Linked DNA regions of Homo sapiens: regions 1 and 2 are each linked to region 3. The links come from fine-mapping of genetic effects on gene expression. A gene starts in region 3. Each other region holds a variant in brackets. All regions are shown on one strand. Distances are between the middles of the regions. Region 1 overlaps RMEL3 (enriched in melanoma 3). Region 2 overlaps RMEL3 (enriched in melanoma 3). Region 3 holds the start of RMEL3 (enriched in melanoma 3).

Evidence for each region.
Region 1: its variant is fine-mapped to the expression of RMEL3 in lung (TOPMed, PIP 0.97).
Region 2: its variant is fine-mapped to the expression of RMEL3 in fibroblasts (GTEx, PIP above 0.99).

What each region holds. Positions count from the first base shown.
Region 1 is chr5:57,491,694-57,502,056 of GRCh38, reverse strand. It overlaps RMEL3 (enriched in melanoma 3), which reads right to left. Exons shown (of 4, transcript NR_186596.1): 2 at 7,832-7,982; 3 at 5,140-5,277. Among named protein-coding and RNA genes, the nearest start is that of ACTBL2, 14 kb to the right of the region's middle. RefSeq lists enhancers at 7,106-7,165, 6,564-7,763. The variant A/T (reference allele first, on the strand shown) is at 5,288.
Region 2 is chr5:57,437,251-57,447,613 of GRCh38, reverse strand. All of the region lies in intron 1 of RMEL3 (enriched in melanoma 3), which reads right to left. Among named protein-coding and RNA genes, the nearest start is that of ACTBL2, 40 kb to the left of the region's middle. The variant A/C (reference allele first, on the strand shown) is at 5,312.
Region 3 is chr5:57,388,709-57,399,071 of GRCh38, reverse strand. It overlaps RMEL3 (enriched in melanoma 3), which reads right to left and starts at 3,965. Exons shown (of 4, transcript NR_186596.1): 1 at 3,894-3,965.

The sequences.
Region 1 (10,363 bases), 100 kb before region 3:
CAAATGACAGCTCTATGAACAGACCCAGGCTGGCCCTGGCAAAGCCAGGCTGCTTGGGTTCTGGAACAAGAATTAAGGAATCAAGTTCCATTCCTGGCACTGTCCCCAGTTTGCTGTTAACCTTTTTTGCTGTCACCTCCTTTGCATCCACAGGGCTTTGTGACATGCACTGCAGTGCAAATGAGACACTATTTGATAAGATCTGAAAACCTCGGACAGAGGCCACAAAGCCAAGTCAATGCAGGGAGAGTTCCTCAGATGTGTCTCTCCCTGGGGCCCAGCTCTCTAAGGGATCTCTCGCTCTCTCTCTCTGGGGCTGTTGAGCTGCTTGATGAGATGTCAGCCTTTAACTCGACGGGAATCATGAGAGAAAAAAACAGATTGTAGAAAATATCTCATTTCCCAATGAGACAGAGATTCTTGACATAGCTTGACCCAGCAGTGTAGAAAAATTCAAGAGAAATGCATCAGTATCTTTAAAGAACAGACACATCCTGTACATCTGAGCTGGGCTTTCAATACTGTCCCTCCTCCAGGCTCACTCAATATTAAACCCTTTCATACCATGTGGCTCCTCCTGAGATTCCATCATAACTGTTTAGGCTCAGATGAGGACAACTCAAACCACTCTATTTGGACCTCATTTTCTGCCCTCTGTCCTTCCTCGCCAGAAAAAGCATTTGCTCTATTTTGTAGATCATATCTGTTCTAAAGGTGGGAACATGGTCCCTTCATAGCTGATGGAGTTCTCTGGATATATCTCCAAGACTGACTTGGTTGGTTTCCAGAAATTCCCTCCTTTCTCTAACACTTCCCAAAGAAGGAAGGATCCGTGAACTCACCTAACAAATTTGTTCAGATCTGCATCTGGTCTCACATCTGTTTCCTTCTCCACCCACTTCACTGGAATGCTCTCCGAGTGTGGGGAGTGTTTGGAACAAATCAGAAGAAAGTTCCTATTTAATAGAAGGTGGAGTGTTGGTTATTACACCTGGGTCCCATCGCCATCTCGGGTGCATCTAATTCCTCAGGAGTCCTGTTCTGACAGCATCCTCCAGGCCTGGTGCTCCCTTCTCAGAATTTACAATGGAAGATTGGGTGGAGGAGGGACTGGCTTTGGTTTTGTTTGTTTTTTGCAGAGAACCGAATCTCTCTCTTTGCTTTCAAATTGGCTTCACCTTCCTCACCAAGGAGAGGCCATTGGGCTGAGCACCTGTGATGATACTGCCCTGGCTCCTCCTCAGCTTACACCATAACTACTGCACCCCAGATTTAAGGCTCACAAGTTGGACCGAGTGATCTCCACAATCCTTCTATAATTCTTTGAGCCTTTTTCATAGACTAAAACAATTTTCAAGTATAACCCCCTTTTGCTTTTCTCCTTCCCATCATTCATATTCAGCCAGGCTAGTTAAAATCAAAAGGAATAAAAAGTAACAAAAGTATATATGTGTGGCTATTATTAATAGGAAGCTATAATTTGAAAACCTCAATCTTCTCATTTGGAGGTAAGATGTGCAACGTCTTTACATGTATCTTTGTCTTTTCAGCCTCATTTCTTTCTCCTCCAGAAAAAGTATCCCCCAAGCAAACAAATAAAAAAATAGAATATATTTAAATTATAAGTAGAGAGGCCGAGGTGAGCAGATCACTTGAGGTCAGGAGTTCGAGATCAGCCTGGTGAACATGGTGAAACCCTGTCTCTACTAAAAATACAAAAATTAGCTGGGCATGGTGGCAGGCACCTGTAATCCCAGCTGCTTGGGAGGCTGAGGCAGGAAAATTGCTTAAACCCAGGAGGCAGAGGTTGTAGTGAGCCAAGTTCGCACCACTACACTCCAGCCTGAGTGACAGAGCAGGACTCCATCTCAAAAAAAAAGAAAAAGAAAAGAAAAAGTGTAAGTAGATATGCTTTAATTTAACCATCCCTACAAAATTAAATGATAGTAATACAGGAGCTAATCTTTGGAGATAAGTAAAACAACCTAATTCAGTGGTTCTCAGCCAGGGCTGATTTTGCCCCCCGGGAAATATTTGGCAATATCTGGAGACATTTTTGGTTGTCATGACTGAGGTGGGGAGGGAAGAAGTACCACTGGAATCTAGTGGGTGGGTAAAAGCCAAGGATGCTGCTAAACATCTTTCAATGCACAGCTCCCTACCACAAAGAATTATGCAGCCCAAAACGTCAATCATGTCAATGCGAGAAACCCTGGTCTAGAGATACCAACAGACCTAGATATACAAAACCATTATTTTTCCATACAACAGAGAAAGTCATGTATTCTCATTAATAAATAGTAGACTCACTAAGCCAAGCAGTCACATAAATAGCACAGTAAAGGTACTATGTAAATTTGAAAGCCAAGACTAAACAGGCAGGACTTGCAGCTTTTCCATAGGTGTTTTTTTTGTTTGTTTGTTTGTTTTTACCAGTTAGGCTCTAAAGAATGTTGCTGCCATCTAGGGGATAGAAAGAGAATCCCAAAAGCACCGTGTTCCTAGCTCCAAGGGCACGAGGTCCAAGCCCTGCAGGCACACTACGCACTCATTTCCCACGTTCCTACACTGAAAAGAAAAAAAAATACTTTGAGTTTTGTGACAAGCAATTGTTTAAAATTAAAAATACATCTATGTGACTCAGAGTCTACAGTGCCTTCAGTTAATTTGTTTTCTCCATTTCACGTGTGTGGTATGAAACTGAAAGTCCAGGTTTCTGATAAAGATAACAGATGTTTGCTGCCTGCTTTTATTTTCATATTTAGTTAGGGTAGAAAGAGGAGGGTCAATCAGTGGCCTCAGAACTCTCTGATAGGACCTCTCTTTCCACACACGCTTTTCTTTGGGTCATAGCAAGACAACAATAAGCTCTAGGGAAATTATAAATCAATAGAACTCCTTGCCTTCTTAAAAAAAAATAGGAAACTTTAATAATTAAATCAACTCTAATTAAAGGAAAATCAAGAAGAACCAGGGTTCAGAAGACAGAGGTGTTCCACCAGCCAAACATGCTGTTATTCCTACACACACACACACACACAGAGAACCCATGCGGATAACAGAGCCAAAAGGACTTCTCTAAGAGCTTTGAGAAGAGCATAGAGAGGGATTTTGCACTTCCGTCCTGTAGTTTTTGGAGAAGCTGGCTCTTGGGCTGCAGGAGTATAGTGTACCAGAGTTATAGGCCCCCTTTCCATTCTTAGCGGTGGTCTTTCTCAAGCTTCTTCATGGCTGCATGGGCTGAACTTTGGTTATTTTTCATGCACCAGAGGTAGAAAGCTTCCAATTCCTTTAACACAAGGGTTCCAAAACATCTTAAAATGATGCAAAAACTTATTTTGATCTTCACAACATGCCTTTGAAATAGGTGTGAATTCTATTTCTGTGTTTTAGGCAAAGAAACTGTTGTTTAAAAAGACTAGGACATTTTATTCTGACTGGCCCATCAAGTCCTGCAGATCCCAGTCCAGTTCATCATTCAGTTTGCAGCTGCATAAAATCGGATGGCTCTTCCTCCTCACTGTTTTAATGGAGCATCCTTTCCCACTTCCCACCTCTACCCTTGCTGGGGTCCTGCAAATACTACTATCCAGACCTTATTTTATTCCAAGGGAAAATGTTGAGGGAACTACCATCAGAGCAAGAGAAGAGAAACCTGTGTTATCACTAAGACATGATTCCACAATTGGCCAAAAAGAAGAATTATCTGATAATCCATGTGACCTCTTTTATAGCCGTCAGACTACAAGTCAATGGATGGAGGATGGATGGATGGATGGATGGATGGATGGGTGGATGGAGAGAAATAGGCAAGGCATGAAATTTCCATTAGCATTCCAGCATTTCTATGAATTTCCTATAGCCCAATTCTCCTAAACAAAGAATCTCATGCAATATTACCTGAGAAAGCACTATCCTGAAGAAATGCAAGGTGTTATTTAAGATAGACACTGTTAGTAACATTTACATTATATTAAATATTAATGTTTTGGGGATACAAAAAATTGTCTATTTACCTACTTCATGGAGTTATTGTCAGAATTGAGTGAGATACAGCAAGAGAAAGCTCTTAAAAGTTCATAAGCAGCACTCTGCATATATAACATGTCACTGTTATTGTCAAATACAGTAAGATAAATTGTCACAAAGTCATTTTCCCAAAGGTGATGTCATGTCTCCATAGACATGGATGCTTATTTCTTCAAGGATCACATATTCTGAGCACCCACCCAATAAAAGCAAACATGACTTGATAGGTAGACAGGATAATTTAAAATTGGCACTACCCTCCACCCAATTTCAGAATATTGTATCTAGTCCAATTCATTAAATTATTTTACCTTATAGAAGGAAAGGACCTATAAAAGATATGTACCATAAGCTCCTCTTTATCAATTTATTTCTTGCTTATGTTTTATATAATTTAGAGGAAATGTTCGTGATATGGATGTGTGAGAAAGATACAAAATTTAACATACATAAAGGTCTCAACTATGTACGTAAAAACAAGAATAGTGATTATCTCTGGATGGTAAGATTACCAAAATATTTTTTCTGCTTTAATGAGAGTCTAATTTTTGTTTTTGTTTTTGTTTTTTTTGAGACGGAGTCTGGCTCTGCCACCCAGGCTGGAGTGCAGTGGCACGATCTCTGCTCACTGCAAGCTCCGCCTCCCGGGTTCACGCCATTCTCCTGCTTCAGCTTCCCAAGTAGCTGAGACTACAGGCTCCCGCCACCACGCCTGGCTAATTTTTTTTTTTTTTTTTTTTTTTGTATTCTTAGTAGAGACGGGGTTTCACTGTGTTAGCCAGGATGGTCTTGATCTCCTGACCTCGTGATCCGCCCGCCTCGGCCTCCAAAAGTGCTGGGATTACAGGCATGAACCACTGCACCCGGCCAATAAAAGTCTATTTTCTTCATCCAATATTAATGAATATTCATTCCCAGACTTCTAGGAATAAATATTTTTTTCAACGCATTCAAGCAATCAGGTATTCTATAAGCCTTCATCCTTCCCTTTGAAACATTTTTCTGGAGCCTCTGTGCCCCACTTCTGGGATTTGCTGCTCTCCAAGCTAGTTTCACAGCTATGGCATCTGCATCTCCCTCCCCGTCGCCCTGGAGATTTCTTTGGCATACCTTCTGGGTTGAGGTTTTTATTTTCAGGGTCTCATGTTTTCTTCTTTCTTGATATTTCCTCTGGTTTTCTTGGAGCACATGGGCTGATATTAACTAAGAAGAGGTTGATGGGAGATAAATCGTTGAGTCTTCATGTGTCTGAAAAGGC[A/T]TTTATTATTCCCTCATATTAATTGTGAGATTGGCTGGGTATAAAACTCTAGTCTGGATATCATTTTCCCTCTGAATTTCCCATTTTGCTATTGACAAGACTAATGATACTTGGGTTCTCATTTTTATGGTTGTGATTATTGGGAGTTTTTTTCCAGTTAAAGCTTTTAGGACCTTCTCTCTCTGCCAGCGTTCTAAACTCTCGCAATGATGTAAGGTGTGATGTGTGTCCTTTCACCTATTTGTGAGTTAACCAGTTCGAGCTATAGGTTTGCCTCTCAGTTCTGGGCAATTTTCTTAATTCATTTATTTTGTAATATCCTTCCCTCTGCTTTTTTTTTTCCTTTCTGTAACTTCTAGTAGTTGGATATTGTACCTGTTGGATTCATCCTCGAATTTTTTTTTAAAAAAATCCTTTTTGTGTGTGTCTGTCATTTTGGTATACTTTCTGGGATATTTCCTCAACTTTATCTTCCAACAATTCTATTAAAATTTTCATTTGTGCAATATTCTTTTTAAGCTCTAAGAGCTCTTTTTGTTCTCTGAATATTTCTTTTTTATAACATTCTCTTCTTATTTTATGTATGCAATATCATCTTTTATACTCAGAGGATATTATTTATAGTTTTGCCTTTGTTAGCTTTTTCTTTGTTTCTATTCCTTACATTGTCCCTACCTCCTTTCTGTTCCTTTTGTTCCCATTGTTTCTGTTGATTGTGTCTTTCAAATTAGAAGCTTTTGTCAAATAGCTGATGTCCCTGGCTGTCCCTTAACCTTTAAAAGCAAGGCAATAAAAAGCTGACTGGAAGCTCTGTGCCTTAAGGAGACAGGCTGCTCTGTAGGATGATTTGGCTGGGCTTTTGATTGAGGGATCCCTAAAGTTGATATCTGTATGCCTTTCCAATTAGGCTCATCCACCCTCTTGCCTAAGGGATAAAAGCCTGGCTGCCAGCATGTTCTTGAAGGCAGGTTGGGAAAGGAGGCTGAGGACCTCTCTATGCACTATGTAGACTTTTACATAATTCCTCTGTGGAGTCTATTTTACAACAGATGTGGTTTTATAATACAAATTAGCTCCTACGCAGTTGGTAAATAGAAAAATTATGTCAGTATAATGCAGAATTAATTTATATGCAATACTTCCTCTGCTCAAGAAAACAGGATGTGGAGCAGAAGTATAACCTTCGGTAGGAAAGGAAAAAGTTTTTAATGGTTGCTGCTCTGGCAATAGAAACCGTTTGCCTGTGGTTTGAAAATTAAAAACAAGTACTTAAACCTGGGCTTCACCCTCGAAGCGGCTACACCCCACACCTGTGGGACTCTTGACTCCTGGCAGGTGGTATTGTCTCTGTGGCACCTTCAGGGCAGCCACACTGACTGAGAAGGCCACTTCTACTGCATTGTCGGAGTTCCTACCAGCTCTGCTCTTGTGTATGTGTTACTAACATTCTCTCTCAATTATTCCTCTGACTTCACAACAATTGTAACAGGCCCCAGCCACACGCAGCCTGCCTCAATAGTACAAGTTAATTTCCTGAGTATCAATTATTGTCTTTACTAGTGCTTTGCATAAGTTGTGAATTTTCTACCTCAATCTTTTTTTGCACATGGCCTTACTTTTTGTGTGCAAGTTTGAAAACTGAATTTTTCAGGAATCTCATCCTTATTGTGCCTTAAGCTTGTTTCCAAAACTGGCCACAACTCTTTCTTTCCCTGTAGCCACGTTCCTTTGCAATGTGACTTTGCAGCCCTGTCCATCAAGAGGTAGACCCTATCCCTCCCCAGCTCTTGAATCTGAGCTACACTTGTGACTTGCTTTGCCCAACTGAATGCATAGAAGAGACACTGTGTCAGTTCCAAGCCTAGGCCTCAAAAGTCTTTGCATGCCTCGACTAGCCCTCTTGGAACCCTGCCCAGCCACAATGTAAGAGCCTGGGCTTTGCCTACAGGAGGAGAGCAGACCACATTCACCAGAAGTGAGTCAGCCCGGCTTTCCCAGCTAAAGCTTCAGAGATAAGGGGCAGGGTTGGGGAGGAGTTCTCTGATGAATTTGCTTTTTTATCCGTATCTTCAGCCTATTTCCCTGTTTCTGACCCTAATTTGTCCCCACTTTTGGAAGTTCCTAGGTTTCCATTACTGAGTCTTTCTGGGACTCTAGTAAGACCACTTTTGCTTCTGGGCCTCCCCCACTCCCATGGAGGCTCTGTTTCCTCAGGGCTGAGTTACCACTGGTTCACCTCTCTCTTGCTTTAAAAATGTTATTGCTGTTATTGTTATTGTCCTGCTCTCTTTATCATTGTTTTTAATGTCTTTTTATTTCCTTACTGCAAAGTTTAGTGGTGTTTGGAGAGAACATGTAGATAAACCCAAGTGTTTAATCTGCCAAACTTAACAAGAAGTCTCCTCACTTCATTTTACAGATGAGGAAACAGAAGTCTATGAAGCTAAGTGGCTTGCCCAAAGCCACCTGAGTAATTAGTAAAAAATCTGAAACCACCTAGAATTCTGGAACCACTCCAATGTTCTTTTCTCTATTCCATGCTACCTTTGCAATTATGTCAGGAAGCCCATCTGATGGAACGAAATCCTCCCCTCATTGAATGTCTGTAGATTTCTTCTGTGCACATAAGATTCTGCAGTGCCATCGTCTGTTCCAGCCTTGACAAATACAGTGAGAAGCCAATTCAATCAGCATTCTAAAATATACAATAAAAGCATATTACTTTTCCCTGCTGATGTTTAAACCATCATCCACATAGAATTGCAAATTTTTGTATGCTCGCAGATTATGTGTAAACTCTCAGGCACAAATTAGAAACTATTCCATCAGTGTTTAAAATTCTAACTACATAAACAAATGCCTGTGCTCTAAACTGAAACAAATTGCAAGGTATACAACGTAGCCTTGTTGGACAGGGCAATGACTTTCAAGCCAGTAAGAAATGGCCAGAACAGGTGCTTCAGAATATGCTAATAACCTTTCCTGACATCCAATGGCCCACAGATATCTAGTTACAGGTATCTAGTTTCTGCCTATAAGCATCACTGATTATGCAGAAGAGCCTGCTTCAGATGTCAGGGTCACTTATGCGAAGCCTTCATATCATCTCCCAGCCCATTCCGGGGATGTGCTCAGCATCTCCACACAACTCCAGTGGGCATCAAGTCAGTGTGGAGCATCATAGGAGCACACAGAACATCCCATACCTCCAAACCCCAGGAGTAAAAAAGCACTACATCTAGATAGGTAAGAGACATCTCCTGTCTTGTCTCTTCACATCTAGACACTGCCTAAATCAATGAATCCCAAAAAACAATTTAGCTTCCATAGAGAATGTTGCCACACCTGACACAATAGAATGAGCCTCTGCCTGGTTTACAGAACTCAAACCACTCAAGTCAAACACTAGATATTTGCTTCAGTGTCTTTCACCAATTGTCTACCTCACTTTAGCCATCCCAAGCTTCCTTTTCTTGTGCTAACAATAGATTCCTACCCAATACATGGGGTTGGCTCAGTACCCATTAGGATACCTGCCAGGAATGTTGTGCTACCATTCTTGACCCTGCTTCACAGTGAATAGGCTCCACTGACCAGAGCTGAGCAAGCATCCTGGAGAGTCACAGAAAATGCAACGAGTGTTGCTAATATTTTGTCCAATTTTTGCTCTTACCATGCAAACTGCTAAACACTTTAGAGGCATCATCTCATGTCAATTCCAAGACAACTTTATGAGGTAAATACAATTATTATCTTCCATTTACGGAGGAAGAAACAGACTTGGGAAGCTCTGAAACACCCCACTTTACAAACCTAGGAAGTGTGGGAACAAATCTAGCTTTGCCAGATTCTAGAGTTGTATTCTTAATCACTATGTTTCCATAGTTACTGCAGGACCAGCACAAGGCAGAGAATTTTAGTTTTTATGTGGCAGCAAATTTGGAGCCCAGGAGATTTTAATATTCATGACTTAAGAGTTTTATGACCGTGGTCTCTAGAAAGGTTTGGGGTTGGAAGAGTTATTCACCAAAGTACTCCGGAAATTAGCTAACTATGAAGGGACTAGTGCCTGAACTAAAGCAAAGCAAATAGGGGCAGAAAGCAGCAAAGGTTATAAGAAATATCCCAAAGAATATTCAGTAGAATGTGATGTCATACTATACTTTGTTTTTCAAAAGTGAATTAAATGAGGCCGCGCACGGTGGCTCATGCCTACAATCTCAGCAGTTGGGGAGGCTGAGGTGGGCAGATTACTTGAGGCCAGGAGTTCGAGACCAGGCTGGCCAACATGGCGAAATCCCGTCTCTACTAAAAATACAAAAAATTAGCCAGGCATGGTGGCACACACCTGTAATCCTAGCTACTCAGGAGGCTGAGGCACAAGAATTGGTTGAGCCTGGGAAGCAGAGGTTGCCGTAAGCTTAGATTGTGCCACTGCACTCCAACCTGTGCACAGAGTGAGACTCTGTCTCAATTAATTAATTAATTAATTAATTTAATTAAATGGTTGAGTCAAATGTAATTCTCAAATTAGAAAATTAAGTGATTTTTCAAAATATTGAGAACATTTATATAAACAGAGCACTTGGGAGAAACTAATAAATTTGGTTTAGCTATGTTAAGCTAGAAATTAAATCTATAACATGTTGAAATGTTAACATAACCCAATCAATCTTCAGTTTAAAAATAAATATGGGAAGTACAATAGTCAATGAGTAAACAACTAGAGTTGGAAATCCATGTTCTAGACACTGTTAGAAATAGAATGTGAAGATGATACAGAGAGTATAGTGAAGGAGAAAACCACATACATAAGTAATATAAAACAAAAAGAGAAAAGAACTACAATAGCGATATAAGCTACGGGACTTTAGAGATGCATCAGATTCACTCCTCCTGGGGAAACTGGTGAGAATCTAAGATGGGCTCTCAAAGATGGATTAAATGTCAAAGGATAGAGAAGGTGGGAAGGACATTTCCAGTGGAGTAAGCAGTGTCAGCAATTCTGAGTGACGGGCTCTCTAGGAGTAGCAATTAGTTCCAAAGACTGGAGCATAAGGTTCACGAGCAGGGGAG
Region 2 (10,363 bases), 49 kb before region 3:
CAGGCTGGGGTGCAGTGGCGCAATCTCGGCTCACTGCAAGCTCCGCCTCCTGGGTTCACACCATTCTCCCGCCTCAGCCTCCGGAGTAGCTGAGATGACAGGCGCCCGCCACCACGCCCAGCTAATTTTTTGTATTTTTAATAGAGACGGGGTTTCACCGTGTTAGCCAGGATGGTCTCGATCTCCTGACCTCGTGATCTGCCTGCCTCGGCGTCCCAAAGTGCTGGCATTACAGGTGTAAGCCACTGCACCTGGCCTGATGTTTTAAAATATATATATATATACATATGTATATATCCTCTTTGAATACACCTGTTTCTGTCTTCATTCTCCCAGTCACTGATGCTTAGAATCTTGATGCCCTCATTAATGCCTGCTTATCCTTTTCACAAATACAATCAACTCAGCCTGGCAGGTCTTTCCTATGTGTCACTCTCATCACTTTCCAAAGAGCTGTCATTTCAGCAGTCACACCAAGTTCCGGTATCCCATCCTGGACTATGGGATACTCACCCACGTGATCTGACAGCTTTCCAGACTCTCCCCTTTCACCCACCTAACACTTCCCTCATAGATTTATTCAAAAAAAGAAAATCAGAGCCCTACTACTTGTCAAGCTGATCTCCTGACTAGTCCCACACAGGGAAGATGATATTAGTGCTCTCATTTTACAGATAAGGAAGCAAAGGCTCAAAGAAAGAGAATGAAATGAACAACTTGGATATTCTATCATATACCCTGCATTGTAATTGGAAAATCCTGTTCTGGTCTTCATGGACTATGGGTTGTACCCCAAAGATATGAGATAGATTTCTACACATGCCAGATACATTTCTGCCTAAGCTACTCTTCCTGCCAAGAATGTCTCCTCACTCCCTCCTTACTCCTTCCTCCAAGTCATATTTATGTGGCTAAAATGGAAAAAGCTTAGGACTTGAAGTTATAGACAAGCTGTATGGTCTTGGAAAAGCTACTTAGCTGTGCTGAGCATCAGTTTCCTTGGCTGTAAAATTGAAATTGTAAAAATAGTGATAATAATAATGATCACAGGTTGGTTGTGGAAATTTAATGAAGCCTTGTAAATTCCAATTATAATGCATGGCATGTGGTAGAATACTCAAGTTGTCCATCTTATTCGCTTTCATCGAGCCTCTGGTTTCTTATCCGTAAAATGAGAGTGCTGATAACATCTTCCCTGAAGGACTTTTGTGATGATGAAGTCCCTGAAGGACTTTTGGATACTGGTAACACTTTGGTGGTTTTTATCACCTTTTCCTCCCAGCTTGACTCACAGGAGCCAATGGGAAGTCTTCCCCCAAGAACCTTAGGGTACAGCGATACTCTATCACCTTGACATTGACTGTCTGGACTTCTCAAGAATGTAGCATAGAGTATGTTGAGATGTTTTGGTTGTTGTTACGCTGAGGTTTCTTTTGGCTTTCTCATCGATTCTTATCTTTCTCATGTGTCCACTCAAATTGACTGCAAGCCCCTGATGACAGGAACTACATCTCATGCAGCAGCTTCCTATCCCATAGAGCCTCGCACACAGGGAGTCAACAGTTACTTGCGGTGGCTGCTGCGGCCAGGGGTGGGACTGGCAAAGGGGGTGAGAACTCCATGGGTGCCAGCTCCAGCTAAGAGGGCTTCTAGCTGAGAGGCTCCATGACCCGGTTGAGGCTGCTTCTTCTCACCGATGACCTGGGAACCATGTGCCAGATATTGCTGAGAAATTGAATCATCAAGTAACATTGGCAGGAATAAGGGAAGGATCTGACTACTACCCTGCTCCCCTTCAGCACATTCCAATTGTGTACAGCAAACCATTTCTTCTTCCCTGGAGAAGGACAGTGCAGGAAGAGAGGTAGGCCTACACCGCAGAGCTGCTTCTTGTTCCTGAGGAACACATCTGTCTCCCTGGGGGCCTCTCGGGCCTCAAAGTTAAATGAGGCCTTTCACACAACCCCATTTGGAGTTCCTGTGAGCTAAAATAGTCACACACTCAGGGTGATAACTGTGCAGTTCCCAAAGAGCTGTCATTTCAGCAGTCACACGGAGTTGAACTACCTCCCTCATACTCTTTTTATGTCTGCTCAGTACGATTTTTTTCTCCCACTCAACAGGCTAGGATTTTCCTGTCTGAGAGCAGTGGCCTCTTTCTCAAACACCCTGTAATTTAAATTGAACAACACTCCCCAACCTCCCGTTTCTTCATAACTAGCTCTTCCCTGACATTGATGAGAACCAGTGAGGGTTAGAGCAGTAAACTCTCATGTCCATGGCTGTCTGTCTCTGCCCATCATTCATTTCCACTCCCTCCTTGCAGAGCCAAGCCTCACAGGGAAATCAGAGCTTCTGCATAGCAGAATTACTCCTAGAGCATAAACTCCAACATGTGTACACTGTAAGCCAATTAAGTCATTCTCAGCATTTTCTCCTGTCTCAAATAAATAAGGATTAGGGAAGTCCTGCCAAGCAGGGTTCCTGTATGGAGAAGTTTTATCTCCTAATGGGCCAGGACTACAAAGCATATAGCAGAAGCTCCAGAAGACAAGAAACCCAAGTCCTATTCTCATAAATAAGTGTAAAGGGGCAATCTCGGGCCAGGCTCAGTTGCCTCTTCCTCCTCATCTTTATCATCTAACCTCATCTGTTGAAAGCAGATAACAACATCTTTTTTGCTTGACAAAAGGGGGCAAACACAGGTGATCTCTCAAGATGCCCTCCAGTTCTGGGGTCTGAGATGCCATGGCATGGGGATGGTGGGAGGATGCATTGCAGAAGCTCTAGAGCAGTGGTTCTCAGCTGGAGGCTGCTGGTGGTGGGGATAGGGTGCCACCAGCATGTAGTGGGTAGAGGCCAGCGATGCTACTAAACATCCTGCAATGCCCAGGACAGCCCCCCTCAATAAAGAATTGTCCAGCCCAAAATGTCAATAGGGCTGAGTTTGAGAAGCTCTAGTCTAAATTAATCCAACAATAATTTGGGGGAAAAGATAAAACGAGTGAAGAAATCCCAACACTCCTGCACCCTGAAATGAGCTGAAATTATTTCTGAAGGAATATCAATCTGGAGGTAAAAAGAGGGACAAAGGCCAAGCGTGGTGGCTCACACCTGTAATCCCAACACTTTGGGAGGCCGAGGCAGACAGTCACTTGAGGTCAGGAGTTTGAGAACAGCCTAGCCAACATGGTGAAACCCCATCTCTACTAAAAATACAAAACTTAGCCGGGTGTGGTGGCATGCACCTGCAATCCCAGCAACTTGGGAGGCTGAGGCAGGAGAATTGCTTGAACCTGGGAGGCAGAAGTTGCAGTGAGCCAACATCATGCCACTGCACTCCAGCCTGGGTGACAGAGCGAGACTGTCTCAAAAAAACAAACAAACAAAAAAAAACAACAAAAAAAGAGGGATAAAAATCTTATAGCTCAAACCAAAGAAAGGCGTCATTTGTATACTTAAAAGTTAAGGGATTTCTGCTAAAAGGCCAATGGATCCAGGCTGAAAGAAAAGGCTGACTGCTGAATCACAACTCTCCTTCCCTAGGAAATGGTACAACCCTACTTCTTGTAAGCAAAGGAAAACCTGTCAGAATACCCTACCACCCCTAATGTGGAGGGCTGGGAGCCAGAGATAAGAGCAGGCTGAGGGGCAACCAGCACAATCCCATCCAGTGTTCATCTGGCACCAGCTGATGGACAGCTTCCCGAATTTAGCTGAATTACAAGGTCCAAGAGCAAACACAGCCACACTAAACCAAGAGCTTGCAGGTAGAAATCCTAAGAAGTCCCTGGATGAGGATCCTTCTCAGTGCAGTGGGACTCAACCTCTCTACTCTCCCTTCAATGGGATCTTCTTCCACACACACCAGCCCATTGCTCCAGGACAGAGGTGAGTCTCAGCCAGCCATGCCCCTCAGTGACCTCAGGTTTTGGACATCTGGCAACTGGTGTAGCAACAGAAATGAAGATTCTTCGCTGTGACTCCTGAGAATGCTGGGTTCTTCTCCAGGATCTCCTGGCCCACGAGACCTCTCAAAACATCATCTAAAAGTACAACCCCTGAACCTGACATTTGGGAGGAAGAATCTAACTGCCAACAGGTGGACACAAGAGGACTCAAACAAACACGTTTGTACTTTCTTTAGTTGTTACCACAGTGGGATATTTCTCTTCTTTCTCAAGAGTGAATACACAGAAAACAAAATTTAAAAATTAGGGACTGTGAAGGTGCCCTGCAGTGTGGAAGAAAGAGGTAAATAAAAAACAAAAGAAGTAGAAAACAGCCCATTTAAAAAAAAGATTCACTGTTGCAAAAAAAAAAACAAAAACAAAAACCTTAACATTTACTATCTTTCTTAACAAAATTAATACAAACCTTGATTAATAAAAGAAGAAAGGGTTAAACATAAGAACCATAAGAATAAGTCAAAAAAAAAGCCTGCAGCGTTCAGGAAATTATGTAATAAAAAATGCTATAGAAGAATTTAAATCAATCTTTTAAAGAACAGAATGAGAATGTGGAAAATTAAGTCATGTAGAGGATAAACACAAAAATTTCTCCCAGAAGCATAGGAAAATGACAAACAGAAAAAAAAATACACTGAAAGGAAAAATTATTTGTGTAGATAACAAAAGTGACCTAATGCATGGGTGATTAGTGCTTTTTTTTATAAGAGACCAGGACAAATGGATTCAGAGTAATATTGTAAGAATAATGTTAAAGAAGAAAGTCTCCAGAAACTGAATGAGGACTACCTTCACCAATGAAGTATGGTGGTAAGTGACATCCACGGCTAGGTCATAAGAACGTCATGTGCTTCTGCCTTGTTCTGTTGGGTTGTTGTCTTAGAACCTGGCCACCATGCTGTGAGAAAGCCAGGCAGTCATGTGGAGAAGCCACATGTGGGTGTTCTGGCTGAGCTCTAACTAATTTCCCAAGCAGCAGCCACACATGTGAATGAGTGAGCCTGCAGATGACTCCACCTTTAGGTGTCCTCAAATGACACTTTGTGGAGCAAGATGAGCTGCTCCTCCCAAGCCCTGGCCAAATTGTGAGTTCATGAGCAAACAGAATGGTTATTGTTATTTTAAGCCCCTGTGTTTGGGGGTTTTATTATACAACAATAGATAACTTGAACACCAACCAAAAAGCTTCTCAACTAAAAGGAAGTAAAACATGTTAAGCAGTGGCTCCGGCACAGTGATTTGCTATTGCTGCCTTGGAGCTGAGATATGAGTAATGTGGGGGTGGGGGCAGCAGAGGGTTCAGATTTATAGTCTTCCCCTGTAACATCATAGAAGAGGCAGCC[A/C]CTGAGCTGTTCTGGTGTTCTGGGCCCATCCCCAGAGCATTTTTCCAAAATGCCCACTGTGGTTTTCTAAGACATTCCCTGGCAATTGCCTAGGGGTTGAAATAATTTTTGGATAAGTTTTCTACACACACACACACGAACACACACACACACACACACACACACACACAGCACAGCAAAGTTATTTATGAGACCAACAGGTCATCTTTTAATGTTTATAACTCAACTTGGAGGGTTCTTTTCCAATGGATTCAGGAGCCACTTAGGTGAGATAAACAAGGAGAGTTGCCCTGCAATATTTTTGAACCAACATGAGCTGCAGCAAATTACAATTCTCAAAGGTGTTGTGGGAGGAGAAAGTCAACGCCTAGTGCTTGGGGACCTAAATTATCTTGTGGCTGATGCCCTATTCTTTGCAGTTCTCAAAGTCCTGCTTCAGTTGTTTCCTGTGAACAGTTGACACCCACTTTCCTGGGGCCACCTCTACCCTTAGAACCTGAGGCAGCCTCCTGGGAGCTGATAAGAAACACTTCTAGGCAGCTCCATCACCCACCCCATTGGGGCTGACTCATCCATAACTTACTCCTCAGGGAAATTGAGAACATCTGTTTAAGGCACACAACACTGGCCACGTGACAGACTGGATGGAATGGGGGGTGAGGTGGATAAAAGGAAACCACTGAACCTTTTAAAAACAAAAACAAAGGGCTTAATATGCAATGACCAAGTATAGTAAATGTATTCCTGCTCACGGAGCAGCTGAGCTGAGCCCACTGAAAACACAGGTGTCCCCTTTATCTCAGACAATAAGCTTCAAAGGAACTTAAAAATGAGGTAGAAGAAACACAAGGACCAGCCCAGTGTGGCTTCTCCTACAAAGCAGGCCAGGATAGAAGAAACCATCGCAAGCCTTTCTGAATGCACACCCAGGATCATCCCTCCATCTGTCCCTGCTTCCCTTCCAGCAAACCCCAGGACAATGCCCTCTCCCTGTCACTACCACTCCCCACATTTGCCCTCACCTGCCCAACTGGGGCAGGCTTCCTCACCTTGCCTCCTTGACTGACAGTAAGGACAAACACAGAATCCCATTTTAATTTAAGAATTTTATAACAAATTCTGTGAGGAAACTGACAAAGGACCTCAAAAATAGGCAACATAGGGAAGTGACAGATGTCCAGAAGTCTTACAGAGTTCACCTTGGGGTGAGTCGGCACCTCAGGCAGGGCAGAGCAGGAAGAGGTTGGCCAGGTCCTTGCTGTGGGCTCACAGAGGAACAAGCACAAAGAAGAAGACCTTCCTCTCACCATCCTCCCTTCCCTCCTTGGTCATGCTGAGCTTTCAGAATGCTTCTTTTAGGCCGAGCGCAGTGGCTCACGCCTGTAATCCCAGCACTTTGGGAGGCCGAGGCAGGCAGATCACCTGAGGTCAGGAGTTCAAGACCAGTCTGACCACCATGGAGAAACCTCATCTCTACTAAAAATACAAAATTAGCCGGGTGTGATGGCACATGCCTGTAATCCCAGCTACTTGGGAGACTGAAGCAGGAGAATCGCTTGAACCCAGTATGCAGAGGTTGTGGTGAGCCAAGATCGGGCCATTGCACTCCAGCCTGGGCAACAAGAGTGAAACTCCATCCCCCAAAAAAAAACAGAATCCTTCTTCTGATGTCCTCATTGTGGTCTTCATCCTCATGAAACACACTACCTTTTCAAAAAAAAAAAAACCTATGTAAAAAGTTATATTTTTAGAGAATGTTCCCCCGGGAAACAATTGCTCCCCTAATCCCTCCCCACCATGAAATGAAAATATGCATATCAGGTTGGCATACTGTGAAAATCCCGAGGACTTAAAGTCTGTAAGTTCCAGACCTCACCAGGCTTGAGAATTTCTCTGCCCTTTTTAAATTTTATTTCCTTCCCTTACAGCCTTCCCTTATGTGTGTTTTTTTTTCTTTCTTGGCTCCAGTCTAGAAAATTATATTTTTCTTCCTAAGATATCAACATGTCTTTTCGAGCCTCCATTCTATACTTAACTTTTAGTCCTTCACGCCCCAGTATTCTTCACCCAGAATCCTATCAGCCACCTGCTCCCATTTCCTATATAACAAAGATGGTATTCCCACCACCAGGGATTCCTGGGCTCCCAGCCCATCAGGGGTGCCATTACAGGGAGCCCCCACTCATAACCATGTGATCACAGGAAGGTCTCAGGATTAGCTAAGGACTCTGAATTAGCTAAGAATACTCATGCCCCATAACACTGATGTAAATCTGAAACCTCAGAAATATGGTAAAATCTTTCAAGATTAGCTATGGTTTTAGAGATTTTGTGTCCAATGAGTGGATTTGTCTGCCTGATGTAGAAAAAGGAACGGTAATAGCTAACACTTAATAGCTCTCTATATACCAGGCACTGTTCTAAGCATTTTAGATACACTGACTCATTTCAGGATGATACCAACTCTATGAGGTGTTGCTATCTCGATTTTATAGAGGAGGAAATTGGGGCTCAAAGAGGTCAAGCAATTTGCACATAAATCTCTCAGCAGTAACTGGTAGCACCAGGATTCAAATTTGGGTAGTTTGGCTCCAGAGTTTGGCCTCCTAACCATCATGCCACACTGGCTGCAAGACCTAGGGTAAAAGGGTCTTGGGAAAACTCAACAGATTACCCTTTATGGTAGAAAGAGCAATGATAATAAAGTTAAAAATCAGTGGTAACCCAGAATAGCTGAGTGATGTGGAGCAAAATACTTAACCCTCTTCACTTCAGGTTTTTTATTTATAAAATAGGGAAAACTAAACTAACTCACAGGATAAACGTGAGGATTAAATAAGAGCAAATAAGTATAAGAGAAAGGCATATTAGTTAGGAATTGTATTCCATTGCTTAATAACAGATGCTAGAAATGAGAGATGTTTCAACAAGATAAAAATTTCTTCAGCTCACACATATTTTTAAAATGTCCAGAGGTAGGCAGTCCTAGGCAGCTATAGCTCTACAGTGTCATTAGGGATCCAGATACCTATCTTTCTCTACAATTCTGATTAATAGCGCATGGCTGCACCCTCAAAGTTGCCTTATGATCCAAAATGGCTGCAGCAACTCCAACCATTATGTCTGCTTTCCAGGAGAAATAGGGAGAAGGAGTTAAGGAATAGAAAAAGTCTGGATTAGCTGATGTCCTCCCCTTTACAGCACTTTCCCAGAACCTTACCCAACAACTGTATACATTTTATTAATTAGAACTACATCACATGACCACTTCTAGCAGCAAAGGAAGCTGGGACATATGGCCTCATTACTGAGCATACAGCCATCAGAATGAAATCAGGGTCTGTACTAAATGAAAAGGGGATATGGATATTGGTTAGGCAACAAGCAGTCTCTGGCCATAGAAGGAAACTAAATTTCATTGAGCATCAACTCCCCGCCAGACACTTCACATAGATTTTCTCATTTGACCCTTGTAGCAATCAAGAAAGATTTAAATGTTGTTACTACATTTATACAGAAAGAAATGGGATCGAAGAGAATAAGCAACACCATTCTTCATACAGGGAAACAGATTTAAAACAGATCTAACTTCAAAACTTGAACTCTATCCATAACATCATTCAGCCTCCAAAGTTTCCTCTAAGGAAAAGTATTTTGTAAAAGTTCAAGCATCATGTGCCACGTATACCTTTAAGACTTCTGTTGTATTAATACTTGAAATTATGTCTCAGTTACTTCCCTGGAGAAAGCAACGAACTCGCTTCAATTATTTTGTAAAAATAGAAATAAAACTGCGTATCATTTCAGTTGGTAGAAGAGGAACAGTCACTGAACATATATATATCCTGGTTACTGATGTGTCCACGTTTTGAAAGCATTTCCTGGCCTTCCTCTCCAACAGTCAGGATAAACAGTCAGTAAAGGTCATTCTGCAGAAGGCCGACTGTCACCCTGAGTAATATCTATCCCTCGTGTTTCAACCCCTTTTCCTGCAGCCACAGATTGTTTATATTAAAAAGAGAAGATGATCTTTATGTTTTCTCTCTTCTTGACTCATTTTGAAAGGAGGTATGGCAGAGAACATAGAGGAATTGCATCCAAATCCTATAGCTACATTTGCATCCTGGGTCCATTCCAGAAATCTGAGTGTTAAGAGAGTGAGGAGGTGCAAAGCAAGGAAGGAAACAGAAATGCTTGAACCCCCATAAACAGGCTCTTCAGCATTGTGTTTATTCTCCTTCCTCCAGTTCATTTTCCTGCCCTAAGGAGAAGACAATCCTGATTTGCAAAAACTAGGAATAAATTGTTGTCTTTGCACTTTTTTTCTACAATGTGACCCTCGGTGCATATAGACACACACCTGGATTATAACAGGCCTTGCTTTGCAGGGCCCTTTGAATGGCAGATACAGAGGCTGAGCATTCAGGCACCCAACATATTATGACTTCTACGGCCTTTTCAAGTGACCCAGAATACTTGCTCCCCCCAGCCCCCACCAGCAACATTTCTTTTGGAAGACCAAGTCATTTATGCCACTTCCAAGATACCACAAATTACCTATGAGTATTCTTTCCTGAGAGCTGGTTTTGATTTGATAGAAAAGAGAAAATGGAAACAGCACAATGGGGACAACACAAGGGTGGGAAAAGACAGCCTGGTGGCTTCAAGATGAACTTTCTTACCTTACAAGTTTTTCTAATGGATTAATGTAGCAAAAAAAAATTTATACACTTCACACAGCTTCTCTGAAGGGAAGAGACTTTTGATGGCTTAAGAAAATGGCACAAAAAAGACTGGGGGAGATGAGGTATTTTCAAAGTACAGAATGCATAAGGGTGGTGGGGGGTAAAGGTGGCAGATGAGACATGAGAGAATAGGCATCTGACAATTGAGAAGAAGAAACTTTTGGGAGTCAAGAGGGAGAATCGAAAGGAGGCCTAAGGCTCCCCATCCACCTGCTACACAGCATCTCCTAGACCTGGCACTAAATCACAGCTTTTCCAAAGGGTGAATTTGTACTAGGGGCTACCTGGACTTCTAGCAGTGAGATGA
Region 3 (10,363 bases):
ATCAATTTCCCAGAAAATGCACCTGATTAGGGCTCAGGGTGGAACTTCAGAAACGGAGTTGGAAATTCGTGCCTTCAAACACGCTTGCTAATTTAGGTCTTCTCCCACAGTCACAAGACGGCTGGGGTGACAAGACCCATCCCTCAGAGGATTCCATGTAACCTTCACTCTGAGGCCTGGAGGTCTCTGTCTCACATCACCAACTGCTTTTTAATTTCCTCCACATTATAAACTAAATGCCAAGTCGTGACAATACATTTCCTAATGGGAAAATAGAGACTTCACAGGCGCTAGAAAAGAACGAAGGACATGAGCTGTCTTTAAAAAGAGCAAATTGACTAATGGCTTAATAAATAGGCTTTCTCTACTGAGTGAAGCAAAAATAAGTTGAATGACAATGCCACGTTAAAAAGAGATTATAATGGAACTAACCCTCGACCCATAACTATAGCAGGTTAGATCAGGAGATGGCTGTCATGAGCAGGAGTCTGCAGGAATTAATGACTCTTAAATGACTTCTGGCTTGGCATTTTCATAGTATGCTCAAAACCATCTGCATTGTAAACCAGGACTTGTGTCCCTGAGCAAGACATTCAATCTCTCTGAGCCTCCATTCCTTACTTGTAAAATAAAATGGACTTCTGTGCACAAAAGAACAATTTGAGGAGCCGGGCACAATGGCTCACACCTGTAATCCCAGCACTTTGGGAGGCTGAGGCAGGCAGATCATTTGAGCCCAGGAGCTCGAGACCAGCATAGGCAACAAAGCGAGACCCTTTTTCTACAAAAAAATCAACAAGTTAGCAAGGAGTGGTGGCATGCGCCTGCGGTCTGAGCTACACAGGAGGCTGAGATAGGAGAACCGCTTGAGCCCAGGAGGTCGAGGTTGCAGTGAGCCATAATCGCATAACTGCACTCCAGCCTGGGTGATGGAGTGAGACCTTGTTTCAAATAATAATAATAATAATAACTTCGGGAGTTTGTTTAAAATGTAAGCTATCAGGTCTCATTCCCAGAGATTTTGATCAGTAGGTCTTGAGCAGGAATCTTATTTTCTAGATATACTTTCCAAATTTCATTCCACAACATAAGATGTGCATGAGGTTTTGTTTGTTTTTTTAAAACTTTTTCATTTTTATGGGTACATCGTAGGTCTATGTATTTATGGGGTCCATGGAGAGGTTTTGTTTTTAATTTTTAAAATTCTACCTCTATAATTCTTCCTTAATTTTTAAATATTATGGAATGTAGTATAAACATTTTCTGTTGACAAAGTATGCAAAAGTTAGCTGTAGATTTGGGCAACATACATAAAAAGAGAAAAAATACAAATGCCTTTTAACTTAATATGGAAGTAGTCCCTGCTTATCTGCAGGGGAAACACCTCAAGACCCCCAGTGGATTCCTGAAACCACAGGCAGTACTAAACCTTATATAGACTATGTTTCTTCATATATATACATACCCATGATAAAGTCTAATTTATAAATTAGACACAGTAAGAAATAACTAATAATAAAATAAAACAATTATAACAATATACTATAATAAAAGTTATGTGAATGTCATCTCTCTTTCTCTCTCTCTTTCTCTCTCTCAAAATATCTTATGTGCTATACTCACCTACTGTCAGACTGCAGTTGACTGAGGACAATTAACACTTCAAAATGAAAACCTCCAATAAGGGGAGACTATTATAATTTTAAGTCAAATATTCCAAGAAAATAATCCCAAGAGCACACAGAAGTTTTGTACAAAGATGCTCATGAGCAAGTCATTTTAGTGGTTAAAATAAAATAAAATAAAACTCTGAACTTCTGAAACTTGACCTCTGATCAAACTGCCAGGCTAGACCTTCCCCAACGCAAACTCCAAATGAAGCACATCTGCCTCATTATGTGGTATTGTAGGTAGAAAACTATTGAAAAAAATAAATAAATAAGCACCCTCAAAGTGACAAAAACAGAGCAACGGTTAAGTAAGTGATGGTACATTCATAAAATACAATATTATAAAGTAGTTAAAATTGTCAGTATGGATACATTGCAATAGTATATTATTCATATATAAGTTCCATTAAAGCTAAGTTACATGAAAAAAATAGTGCAAACATTATATACACACACACATACACATTGCCACACCCACACATCCTCCCTACCCACTATAAACCTACAGAACAGCACGGGAGAACAAAGCCACAGGCTGCCCACAGAGTGATCCTTTCTTTTCTTTTTTGCCATACTTGATCTGAAACAAATAAAGTTATTTTTCCAAAGAAGTGGTGCAGTGAAAGGGTCCACCCACCTGTTTTAATAGGTTTCTAATTATTTAAGTGTGATAAGGCCAAGAAACGACATCACTGAAAAGATAGAGGTCACACAAGAAACCAGGACCCCCTCAGGAGGCAGAGGGAGGGGGATCTGTGGATGAACGCCTTTTTTGTGGCTTACAGGGAAGGAATTTGCGAGGCAGGGTCAAAAGGCATAGGATGGACTAATTGGAATAATTTCAGTGGGCTCTGGGGCACAGGGGCTGTCCCTGCTTGTGTGATACTGGTCCTGGGGTGATCGGTGTGGGTGGACAGTAGCCAGCGGAGGTAGTCGAAGCGTGGGCCAGTCGCCTGTCTAGGCAGGGAAACTGGCCTCTAGACAGGGCCTCAAAACTGGGTCAAGACAGCATTTAGAAAACAATATTATAACACCTGAAAGAGGTTGCAAAATAAAAGTCATTACTTGAAATTCTCTAACACTATGGGTTGGGGAGGGGCGCACCCAGAGACTACAGCTGTGATACTATTTTATATATATGTTTTCATCCAAGGTTTCTGGCTCGTAACTCCCATAGCGCTTGTGACAGTGTTTTGTTGTAATGTTGGAGCACTTTAGATCCCAGAAGCAGGCCTGAGAAAATACAATCTCTCTCTGACCGTCTCCTGCCCTCCTTTCACCTGCTCCCTTTTTTTCCCAAGGCAGGCCTTAGGAACTAAAAATATACTCTAATTGTTCCCTACCTTTCTGTCTTGCACTGGCCAAAAAGAAATTCCCTGACCTACCTTGTCTGATTGCAGGTCATAAGACCCCATTTCAGAAGAGGTCCTGCCCCATTCCCAGGAGGAAGGAATGCTGCACAGAGAGGCCAAAAAGAATCTGAACAGACAGGCCTTGCTGGGTTTAGAGCATACTCTTCTTATCCAATCACATTTTGACACAGTTGTCTCTGCTTCAATTATGGACAATCAATGCAGCCTCCAAAAGAGGCCCAAAGGACAGGGTTCGAGGGCTTCCGGGGCGCTGAACACATGGAGGCTGGCAGGAAGGCGAAGAACTCACCCACCTGCTAGAGCAGGGGCACGTATCCCAACTCCACAAGGACAGCAGCTCCTGCACTCAGGACCATTCCAGACCTCACCCTATGCATGTTTTCATGTGGCTATTTATTTGCATCCTTTCAGATATCCGTCATAATAAACTGGTAAGCATAAGTGTTTCCCTGACTTCTGTAAGTCACTCCAGCAAATTAATTAAACTCAAAGAGGAGGTCATGGAAACCCCAACTTGAAGCCAGTCAGTCAGAAGTTCAGAAGGCCTGGACTTACGACTGGTAAGAAGGAAAGAGTGGTCTTGTGGGACTGAGCCCTCAACCTGTGGGATCTGATGGTATCTCCCAGTAGACAGTGTCAGATTTGAATTGGAGGACGCCCAGCTGGTGCCTGCTGCAGAAGCGATTGCTTGCTTGGTGTATAAGGGAACCCCCACCACCACATTTGGTCACAGAAGTCTTCTGTGTTAATTGTTGGGGTGTGAGAGAAAAGGAAAAACAGAGTTTACTCACACTCAACAGCAATACTTAAAATCTTTCCATTTATTTTCTTACCCACTTCTCTCACCTACCGGATCGGCTGTTCTCAAAATAACCTGAGAAACATCTCCAAACCTCTGGTTAGTTTCTTCTCCCCAGTTGCTTCCTTCATTTGTCCCCAGAAAGGCTGAGAACAAGTCTGGGAGAGTAAGATCCTCCTGACGGGGGCAAATGAGGGAAGAGACTGACCCTTGAAAGCTAAATAAACTCTGCCAATTGTACCAATGCCAATGTCTGGGTTTTGATAATGTTCTATAGTCACGCAAAATGTTACCATTAGAGGAAACTGGGTGAAGGATACACAGGACTTCCCCATATATTTTTGGTAATTTTCTGTGAAACTATAATTATTTCAAAATAAAAATGTAAAACTGAGACATAATAATAATAAATGAAATTTAAAGATAAAAGTTTTTTAAAATCTTAACCTATCCCAGACCTTTTTTTTTTTTTTTCATCAACTCAGCCGTTTAAGGAAGATAAGTAACAAAAAGTGTATTCAATACTCCAGGGGTCTTTCAGAAGGTGTTGAAGTCATTCTCCTGGAAGATATGAAAACTGAATGTGTTCTCTTGTGTGTGGGGTATGACTGAGGTATTATGATCCTGGCTAGGCAGACAGGAGGACTAATTCATCCCTCAGGGTGTCCTTTCTCCATACAATGTTCCTCTCAAGGGAAACTAAACAAATCTTTACTGAGAACAGAAGGAACTTGGAGGGTTATTGCCAGTCTAAAGGGGCTTTCCTTTCCCCACCTCAATCCATCCATATACATGCTGAGTACTTAACAAATTGAGAAATAAGATTAAAAAATACACTGGGGCAATTAAAATGTAAACTTATCACTGCTAAGGCCGATATTGGAAGATGTTGCTTATATTGCAATCCTGGGGCCTCGTAATACTGATCCTCTGCAGGCCTCCCCACATAGACTGCATGCTCTCTGGGGTGAGTTCACACCCAAGAGAAAAAAAGAAGGGAAAAGGCTGATATACAAGTGTCCAGTTTATCCTTCCCAGGTCAACAAGCAGATTTAAGTCATTCTTCCTCCCCTGAGTGAGTGAGTGAGTGGCCAGGTGTGTTACAGTGGAATGCCAATCACATGACAGCAATCAGAGTGAAGGAAACTCCCCCATCACTACTGTATCCATTTCCTAGGGCTGCCATAACAAATTACCACAAACTGGGTGGCTTAAAGAACAGGAAGTTACTCTCTTACAGGTCTAGAAACTGGAAGTCCAAAATCAAGGTATCAGCAGAGCCATGCTCCCTCCGGAAATTCTAGGGTAGGATTCTTTCTTGCCTTTTCCTAGCTTCTGGAGACTCCTGGCAATCATTGGTGTTCCTTGGCTTGTAGCTGCATCACTCCAGTCTCTGCCTCCACTATCACACGGACTTCTTCCTTCTGTGTGTGTCTGTGTGATCACTTGGCCTTCTTATAAGGGCACCAGTCATTGGATTAGGGCGCACCTTAATCCAGTACAAATTCATCTTAACCAATTACATCTGCAAAGATCTTATTTCCAAATATGGCCACATACTGTGATTCTCAGTGGCCATGAATTCTAAGGAAACACTATTCAAGCAGTCACCGGCCACCAGAAAGAACAAGTAGGTTTATTATCCTTTAGAAACATGTTTTTTTCTAAAGGGTATAGCAAACAAAAGTCTACCGTCATAAATCTTTTCTCTCTTGAAGCATCTTTATATGGGAACTCTGATTTAAAAGAACATGACCAAGGTATTTACACTATCCATGAAGCAGTATTGTGTTCTTTGAAAGTGGGCTTGGATTCATTGTAAATGTATATTTCAAACTCTACGGCAAATACTGAAAAAAGTATAAAGATAAAAGAAAAGAAGCAGAATAACCAAAATGCTCAGAAATGGGGAAACATGAAATCATATAAGATGCTCAAGTAAAACCACAAAAGGCAGGAAAAGAGTGAAAGACAAAACTAGGAACAAAGAAAAGGACAACAAATAGAAAACAGAAACAAATATGGGAGATTTTAACCCAACTAGATCTATAATCACTTTAAATATCAATAGTCTAAATTCACCAATTAAAAGACAGAGATTGTCAATATGGATCAAAAAAGAAGATCAACCCATATGTTATTTATAAGAAATTCCTTTAAATGTAAATATGCATATAGATTAAAAGTAAAGGGATACATTGATGTTCTTGTACAGAATGACTATTGTAAAAAAAAAGAACAAGAAAAAGTAAAGGGATAGAGAAAGATACATCATGCTAACACTAATCAAAAGGAAGTGGAAGTAGCTACAGTAATTACAGACAGAGGAGAGCAAGGAAGTCATCAGGGCTAAAAAGGAGCATTACCTAATAATAAATAGCTCAATTCTCCAAGAAGACATAACAGTCCCTAATGTGTATGTGCCTAACAACAAGCACCAAACTATGTATGGCAATAACTTGCAGAATTGTAAGGAAAAATAGATGAACCCAGTATTATAGACTTTTGCACTCCTCTATCAGAAATGGACAGATCCAGCAGGCAGAAAATTAGTTAGTGAGGACATAGTCAAATTCAACAACATCATGAATCAACTAGAATAATGGGCATCTATAAACTAATTTATCCAACAACAGCAGAATACACATTCTTCTTAAGCTCACATGGAACATTCATCAAGATAGATAACATTATGGGCCGTAAAACACAACATAACAAATTTAAAAGAAGAGAAATCAGACAACATTTGCTCTCAGACCACAATGAAATTGAACTAGAAATAAGTAACAAAGTGATAACAGGAAAATCCTAAAACCCATGGAGATTAAACAACATACTTCTAAACAAACATAGGTCAGAGAAAAAATCCCCCAAAAAATTGTTTAATATTTTGAAGTAAATACAAATAAAAACACAGTTTATCAAAATTTGTGGAATACAGCAAAAGCTGTGATTAGAGGGAAATTTATAGCATTGAAGGTATACATTAGAAAGGAAATCTTTCTGATTTAAATTAACAACCTAAGCTTCCACCTTAAGAAACTAGAAAAAGTAGAGCAAGTTAAATCCAAAGTAAGCAGGAAAAAAGAAATAATGAAAATGAGGGCATATTAAAAACAAAAAATTAATAAAGAAAAATAAATGAAACCAAAAGCTGATTTTTTGAAAAGATAAATAAAATTGATAACCCTCTAGCAAATTCAAATTCAAAAGAGGATACAAATTATTAACATTAGAAGTGAAAGAGGCAACATTACTACAGACATTATGGATATTAAGAGGATAATAAAGGAATTCTATGAACAACACCCTGCTCACAAATTTGATAATCTTGATTAAATGAACCAATTCCTTGAAAGACACAATCTGCCAAAACTCGTACAAGAAGAAAGGGACAGTCTGAAAAGATCATCCTATTAAAGAAGTTGAATTAATAATGACTTTCCAAAACAGGAAGCAACAGGCCTACATGGGGTCACTGGTGAATGCTACCAAATATTTAAGGAAAAATTATACCAATTCTCTACAATCTCTTTAAGAAGATAGAAGCAGAGGAAGTACTTCTAAGAAGGTATAAGCAGAGGAAATACTTCTTAACTCATTCTGTCAAGCCAGTATCACCCTAATGCCAAAATCAAAGACATTACGAGAAGAGAAAACTGAAAACCAACATTTCCCATAAGCACAGATGCAAAATTCTCCACAAAATATTAGCAACTTGAATCCCACAATATGCAAAGAGGATTATACACCAGAACTGAGTGGGATTTATCCTAAGTATGCAAGGATAGCACAAAAATCAATCAATAGCACAAAAATGAACCAAGTGGGATTTATCCTAAATATGCAAGGATACCACAAAAATCAATCAATGTTATCAATCACATCAGCAGGCTAAATAATAAAAAACAAATGCTCATATAAAAAAATAAAGAAAAGCACTTTGGGAGGCCAAGGTGGAGGATCACTTGAGGCCAGGAGTTTGAAACCAGCCTGAGTAACATGGCAAGACCCTATCTCCATAAAAAAATTTTTTTTAAATAGAAAACAAGTAAAAATAAATAAATGGAGAAAAAGCATTCGACCAAAACCAATACTCTCTCATGATAAAAGCTCTCAGCAGCCAGGCGTGGTAGCTCACGCCTGTAATCTCAGCACTTTGGGAGGCTGAGGCGGGCGGATCACAAGGTCAGGAGTTCGGGTGAGACCAGCGTGACCAACATGGTGAAACCCCATCTCTACTAAAAATACAAAAATTAGGCAGGCATGGTGGTGAATGCCTGTAATCCCAGCTACTCAGGAGGCTGAGACAGGAGAATCGCTTGAACCCAGGAGGCAGAGTTTGTAGTGAGCCGAGATCGTGCCACTGCACTCCAGCCTGGGCAGCAGAGCGAGGCTCCATCAAAAATAAAAAATAAAAAATAAATTAAAAAAAGCTCTCAGCAAACTAGGATAGAGGGGAACTTCCTCAATTTGATTTAAAAAAAAAAATAGCTACAGAAAATCTACTACTAACATCATACTTAATGTTGAGATACTGGAAGCTTTCCCACTAAGATTAAAAAACAAGGCAAGGATGTCCCCTCTCATCACTCCTTTTCAACATTGTACTGGAAGTCCTGGCTAATCCAATCAGACAGAAAAAGGAATAAAAGGTATACTGATTGAGAGGGAAGAAATAAAATTATTTTTGTTCACAGAAGACATGACTGTCTATGTAGAAAATTTGAAGAAGCAACAAAAAAACTCTTGGAACTAATTACTGATTACAGCAAGATTTCAGGATACAAGGTTAAAATACAAAAGTAAATCACTTTCATATATACCAGCAATGAACAAGTGGAATTTGAATTTAAAACACAATACTATTTACATTAGCATCCCCAAAAATGAAATACTTGGGTATAAATCCAACAAAATGTGTATAAGATCTATATGAAGAAAACTAGAAAATGCTGATGAAAGAAAGAAAAGAGCTAACTAAATGGAGAGCTATCCCATGTTCATGGAAAGGAAGATTCAATGTTGTCAAGATGTCAGTTCTCCCAACTTGATCTATGGATCAATGCAATCTCAATCAAAATACCAACAAGTTATTTTGTATATATTAAAAAACTGATTCTAAAGTTTATATGGAGAGGTAAAAGACAAAGAATAGCCAACACAAGATTGAAGAAGAAAAACAAAGTTAGAGGATGAATATTGCCTGACTTCAAGACTTACTATAAGGCTGCAGTAATCAAGACAGTGTGGTATTGGTGAAATAATAGACAAATAGATCAATGGAATATAAAAGAAAGCCCAGAAACAGCCCCACATAAATATAGTCAACTAATATTTGACAAAAGAACAAAGGCAATACAATAGAGAAAAAGTCTTTTCAACAAATGGTGCTGGAACAACTGGACATCTAAACATGTAAAAAAAATATAGAGATAAACCTTACACTTGTCACAAAAATTAACTGAAAGTTAATCACAAAAGTAAAATGTACCTAAATGTAAAATGTAAAACTCTAGAAGATAACATAAGAGAAATTCTAGATTATGTGGGTTCAATAATGACTTTTTAGATACAACACCAAAGGCACAATTCATGAAAAAAAAGGTATCAATAAGCAGGACTTTATTAAAATTAAAATTTTTTGCTCTGTAAAAGACACTGTCAAGAGAATGAAAAGACAAGCCACTGACTGGGAGAAATATTTGAAAAAGATATATCTGATAAAGGACTCATATCCAACATATACAAATAACTCTTGAAACTCAATAACAAGAAAACAAACCACTTGATTAAAAAATGGGCCCAAGATCTTAACAGACATCTCACTAGAGAAGATATACAGATGGAAAATAAGCATATGAAAGATGGTCCACACCATATATCATCAGGGAAATGCAAATTAAAACAAGATGTCACTACATGCCAATTTAGAATGGCCAAAACCCAGAACATTGACATCATCAAATGCTGGTGAGGATGTGAAGCAACAGAAATAGGAACTCTCATTGCTGGTGGAAATCAAAATGGTACAGCAACTTTAGAAGATACTTAGGCAATTTGTTATAAAACTAAACATACTCTTACCATATGATCCAGCAACTTGCATTCCTTGACATCTACACAACAGAGTTGAAAACTTATGTGACACAAAAACCTGCACACAGATCCTTATTGCAGCCTCATTCATTATTTCCAAGATGTCCTTCTATAGGTGAATATATAAATAAACCGTGGTGTGGCCAGACAATGGAATATTATTTAATACAAACAAGATATGAGCTATCAGGCCATGAAAAGACTTGGAAAAACCTCAAATACATATTACTAGATGAAAAAAGTCAATTTTAATAGGCCACATACTGCATGAGTCCAACTATGTGATGTTCTGGAAACGGTAAAACTGTGGAGACAGTGAAAAGCCCAGGATTACTAGGGAGGGAAGGATGGAGTAAGTAGAACATAGAGGATTTTTTAGGGCAGGGAAAATACTCTGTATGATGCTATAATTGTGCACACAA